Linked DNA regions of Homo sapiens: region 1 is linked to region 2. Evidence: fine-mapped expression QTL. A gene starts in region 2. The other region holds a variant in brackets. All regions are shown on one strand. Distances are between the middles of the regions.

Region 1 (3,008 bases), 430 kb before region 2:
GCACTTTGGGAGTCTCAGGAAGGTGGATCACAAGGTCAAGAGTTCAAGACCATCCTGGCCAACATAGTGAAACCCTCTCTCTATTAAAAATACAAAAATTAGCTGAATGTGGTGGCGCATGCCTGTAATCCCAGCTATTTGGGAGGCTGAGGCAGGAGAATCGCTTGAACATGGGAGGTGGAGGTTGTAGTGAGCCAAGATCATGCAATTGCACTCCAGCCTGGGCAACGAGAGCAACTCTGTCTCAAAAGAAAAAAAAAAAGGCCGGGCCTGGTGGCTCACGCCTGTAATCCCAGCACTTTGGGAGACCGAGGCGGGCAAATCACGAGATCAGGAGATCGAGACCATCCTGGCTAACACGGTGAAACCCTGTCTCTACTAATAATACAAAAAATTAGCCGGGCGTGGTGGTGGGCGCCTGCAGTCCCAGCTACTCGGGAGGTTGAGGAAGGAGAATGGCGCGAACCTGGAAGGCGGAGCTTGCAGTGAGCCGAGATCGCGCCCCTGCACTCCAGCCTGGACGACAGAGCGAGACTCCGTCTCAAAAAACAAAAAACAAAACAAAACACTCTACCTTTAAAAGGGAGAGTGGGAAGAAGAGATTAGAGAAGGAATTGTCCAAAAGATAGAAGGGAAACCAGCAGGGTGATATTTGAGATGAAGAAAAGAGTTCCAAGAAGATGCTGGGCATGGTGGCTCGGGTCTGTAATCCCAGCACTTTGGGAGGCCAAGGTGGGCAGATCACCTGAGGTCAGGAGTTCAAGACCAGCCTGGACAACATGGTGAAACCCCATCTCTACTAAAAATTTAAAAATTAGCCAAGTGGTGCGCACCTGTGATCCCAGCTACTTGGGAGGCTGAAGCAGGAGAATCGCTTGAACCTGGGAGGCAGAGGTTGCAGTGAGCCGAGATCACACCATTGCACTCCAACCTGGGCGACAGAGAGAGCCTCCGTCTCAAAAACAAAAGCTCCATGAAGGTCCAGAAGGACCAGGTCAACCATGCTTACTGTCCCTGACAGCTTAAGCTGTCAGGGTGAGGGATTAGGCAATAGAGGACAACCTTCCAGAGAGAGTGGGCACCAAGGAGTTAGTAACAGATCCAGTGGAGTGGGAGATGGGGAAGTGGAGGTGGTTGGCTGGGAAGAGGAGGAGAGGAAAGGGAAGGAA[G/A]GGAGCGTCATGTGGGTATGCAGCCCAGGAGGGCAAGACAAATGGGTTTGGGCTGGCCTGGAAATACTGGGGCTAGGATGTATGCAGGTGGGAAGAGGAAGGGGTGAGCTTTCCTCCTCCCACCTGGTCATTTTAGGTTGACTAGACAGACAAGGACACCCTCAACCTAGCTCTTCCTTGACAGTCTCGGAAGTGTCCCACTTCCTTCATCCCATCCCCATCTTGCAGGCCAAGGCACACTATTCTCATCCCTCCTTCCCTCTCCCTTCCTGCCCCCATGGCTCCCCTGAGGTTTTTCGGAACCAGCCACTCCCACCCCCAGTCTGCTGTCTCACCCTCCCTGGCCCAGCCTGGTGAGACAGGCAGGGAGGAGTTTCCAGGCAGGAAAGCGCTGAGTCACTCACCAACACATCTGGTCTCAGATCTTGATACCCAGCTGGAAGGGGCAGGAAGGAAGAGGGCTCCTCCCCACAAGCTCTCCTGGCCAGTCCCCACCATTGCCAGCTGTGTGGGGCAGTCTGGGAGAGGAGCGCCTCTGCCACTGTAACAACTAGCCTTTGCTGGACTGCCTCGCCCACTCCAGCTGGGGTGCTTCACTTCTGTGATTGCCTTTAATGCTCCGAACAGCCCTGGGAAGTAGGGCCGATCACCTCCAATTCACAGGTGAGGAGACTAAGTGGCTTGCACGAGGTCACGCAGATTTGGCGCGCTGGTGCATTGGTGTCCCCGTCCTATGCTCTGGGCACACAGGAGGGAGTGATGTAAAGAGACAGTGAATGAAGTTGTCCAGGGGCTCAAGCATACCAGTAGGCAGACTGCGCCCATCCTCCTGCCAAAATGGCCCCTTCTCAAAGTCCCAGTGGAGAGAGGGCCATCCTTCCTGCCCCACTCTGTGCCCTGCCCATTTGTTGCTGGCTCTGTTTGGAGTCCCCCACACCCCTCATTCCCCAGCCTCTTTCATTGTCTTCTCCCTCCTCCCCACTGAGAGGAATAGCAGTGGCTTTGGCAGGAGGCGTTCCCATTGTCCTGAGTGGAGAGGGGCATTCAGGTCCTGAGAGGGCAGGGCAGATCATGCCAGGGCCTGTCACCTCTTCCCAGGCTGCAAAGCAGCCTTCTTGGGGCCCAGGCTGGTTTTTTATACAACATGCAGTGTGACATTGGGCAAGTCACTTCACTCCCCACAGGATGGGTTATTGCACATACATCATACAGGAGAGCGTGCAAATCACTGTTCTTCTCTAGGCCAGACTAGCCCCAATAGTAATTTTTTTTTTTTTTTGAGACGGAGTCTCACTCTGTCACCCAGGCTGGAGTGCAGTGGCGTGATCTTGGCTCACTACAACCTCCGCCTCCTGGGTTCAAGCAATTCTCTGCCTCAGCCTCCCGAGAGCTAGGATTACAGGAGCCTGCCACCACGCCCAGCTAATTTTTGTGTTTTTAATAGAGATGGGATTTCACCACCTTGGCCAGGCTGGTCTTGAACTCCTGACCTCGTGATCCATCCACCTCGGCCTCCCAAAGTGCTGGGATTACAGGCATGAGCCACCGCACCTGGGCTTTTTTTTTTTTTCCTGAGACAGAGTTTTGCTCTTGTTGCCCAGGCTGGAGCACGATCTCAGCTCACTGCAACCTCTGCGTTCCGGGTTCAAGCGATTCTCCTGCCTCAGCCTCCCAAGTAGCTGGAATTACAGGTGTGCACCACCATGCCCGGCTAATTTTGCCTTTTTTTTTTTTTTTTGAGACGGAGTTTTGCTCTTGTTGCCCAGTGCAATGGCACAATCTCGGCTCACTACAACCTCCGCCTCCCCAGTTCAAGCAATTATCCTGCCTCAGCCTCCT
Region 2 (2,500 bases):
AAGTGCCCTCAATAAAGTCCAACTTCCTTGGGACAGCATGCCCAGCCCTTCATGGTCCGGTCCCTATTTACATCTTTTTTTTTTTTTTTTTTTAAGACAGAGCCTCGCTCTGTTGTCCAAGCTGGAGTGCAGTGGCACGATCTCAGCTCACTGCAACCTCTGCCTCCCGGGTTCTAAGGGATTCTCCTGCCTTAGGCTCCAGAGTAGCTGGGATTACAGGCGCACACCACCATGCGCGGCTAATTTTGTATTTTTAGTAGAGACGGGGTTTCACCATGTTGGCCAGGCTGGTCTCGAACTCCTGACCTCAGGTGATCCACCAGCCTCGGCCTCCCAAAGTGCTGGGATTACAGGCGTGAGCCACCACGCCCGGCCAAATGCCTGTTTTTCAAAGGTCCTGTCCTCTCTCTTGCCTCTGAAACTTGCTGTTATCTTTGCCTTCCCTGTGCCTGGCTAAGAACTCCTGTTCTTCAGGTCCTAACTAAGATGTCCCCTCCTTCGCTGACTCCTCAGGTGGAGTTCGGTGCCTCTTCTCTGTGCTCCCCTAACACTCTGAGCTCTGACACGGAGAGAACTTCGGTCACTGGGAAGGGTGACCCGATCAACCCCACGGCCCCAGCCCCTCAACACTTCCTCGAACACAGTAACCTGCTTGAGAGATTAAGTGAGAAGTCTGTTTTAACAGGTTGCATCCTTCTCCTTGCAACCCCTGGCGCCCCACGTCGCAGTAGCAACCGCAGGCCCCGCTCAGAGGCTGGGGGAGGGGAGGCGGGCAACCAGTCGTGCAGGACTCTTCCCCCAGAAAAGATGAGGAAGGGACGGGGCAGGGAAGAGCTTTGGGTTCTCGGCAAGAAAATGTATCCTTGCAGCCGTCTCCATCAGATTCAGCCTCCCCGCTCCGACGCACCCTCCCCTCTAGGAGTCCCACTCAAACTCTCCACATCAGACTTCCTCAGAATCTTCCCATCAAGATTACCTCACGCTTCCCCCACGCGATCCCCTCTTGGTCTCAGCCTCGATCTCCCTTCCTCGCAGCCTCCTCCCTCAGCCTCGACTTCCCCCTCGCAGCCTCCTCTCCGAGCCTCTCCCCAGCGCCTCAGCCTCCCGCAGCCTCCCATCGGCGCTCCAGCCTCAGCCTCCAGGTTCCCGGTCCGGCCCGGCCTGGCCCCGCCCCCGCCGCGAGGACGGTGCTCACCGTCGTAGTAGTAACAGACTTTCCTCCGGGTGCCCTGCGTCTGCGCCATCTTGCTCGCCTCCCGTCCCTACCGTCAGTCGGTCCGTCCGCCCTCCCGCCCGCGGCTCCGCTCAGCGTCCGACCCAGGGGGGAGGGGGCGGGCCTCCGGCCCGCCCCGCCCGTCCCCTCCTGGGCTCACCTATAGCCGCGCAGCCCGGGCACCGCTCCAGCCAATCAGCTTGCGCAGACACGGGCCCGGAACTCGGCAGGGGGCAAGGGCAGCCCGGAGAGGCCGCCGAGGGCCCCCTGGGCCTGTACCAAGGTCTGCGACAGATGGGTGGGGAGCCGCCCGGGGACCGTACCATCAGTCCCGGGGGAGGAAAGCAGCTCTGTAAACTTAACAGTCCCACTTCGTCGTGAAAAGCGTGCTTGGAGATCGGAGGCCAACTTTCTGATTTTACGGAGAATAAACCGAGGCCTACAGGGGAAAAGTGACTTGCACAAGGTCACTCAGCCAATAAAAGGGCTGAACCTGGGTTAGAAAGCGAGTTTGTGGCCGCAAAGGAGGGCTACAGAAAAATAATTAAAAAGAAAAGCAACACGCGGGTTTGGAGAGGAAGAAACCGACAAGAAAGGGAAAGAAAGCTAATGTTTGTCGAGGGGCTGCTGTGTGCCAAGTACTGTGCGACACTTTACCAATGTTATTTCAGTTTTTCCTCAAAACAGCTCTCGGCCAAGGGCTTTTTACCTCCATTTTACAGGACAGGATAAAGAAGTTCAGACTTCTGTGAATTATTCAAAGTTACACAAAGTAATTAAATTCAATTTTTTAATTGTACAGGGTTTTTAAAATGCTTTCTTTGCACCAGAGGCACTGTAACAAAGTGACAGAACCCAGCCTTTCAGACTCCAAAATCTACCTCCCTGATGCAGTCACCCAGGATGACTAAGTAGGCGTCTCTTTAGACAGGAGGAAATGGGATTATCCTATGATAGGAGGGCAGGTTTCCTTTCTTTTCTTTCCCTGTTTTTTTTTTTTTTTTTTTTTTTGAGACAAGAGTTTCGCTCTAGTTGCCCAGGCTGGAGTGCAATGGTGTGATCTCGGCTCACCACAATCTCTGCCTCTGTGTTCAAGCGGTTCTCCTGCCTCAGCCTCCCGAGTAGCTGGGATTACAAGCATGTGCCACCATGCCCGGCTAATTTTGTATTTTTGGTAGAGACTGGGTTTCTCCGTGTTGGTCCAGGTGGTCTCGAACTCCTGACCTCAGGATCCGCCCACCTCGGCCTCCCAATATGCTGAGATTACGGGCGTGAGCCACAGCGCCC

Which allele goes with the higher level. Alleles are on the strand shown, and positions count from the first base shown. SD is a standard deviation of normalised expression in the study named.
For the expression in gastroesophageal junction of the gene that starts at base 1,331 in region 2, A is the high allele of the variant in region 1 and G is the other (moderate effect, 0.48 SD a copy in GTEx).

The links. PIP is the estimated chance that this variant, and not a neighbour inherited with it, causes the effect. A credible set is the group of variants that fine-mapping cannot tell apart.
Region 1: its variant is the best candidate, but not a certain one, in a credible set for the expression of HDAC1 in gastroesophageal junction (GTEx, PIP 0.83).

What each region holds. Positions count from the first base shown.
Region 1 is chr1:32,723,902-32,726,909 of GRCh38, reverse strand. No RefSeq gene overlaps it. Among named protein-coding and RNA genes, the nearest start is that of NHSL3, 16 kb to the left of the region's middle. RefSeq lists enhancers at 1,388-1,682, 1,791-2,619. The variant G/A (reference allele first, on the strand shown) is at 1,170.
Region 2 is chr1:32,290,914-32,293,413 of GRCh38, reverse strand. HDAC1 (histone deacetylase 1) reads right to left here and starts at 1,331. Exons shown (of 14, transcript NM_004964.3): 1 at 1,196-1,331. The coding sequence starts at 1,244. RefSeq lists enhancers at 1-466, 538-597 and a silencer at 1,208-1,617.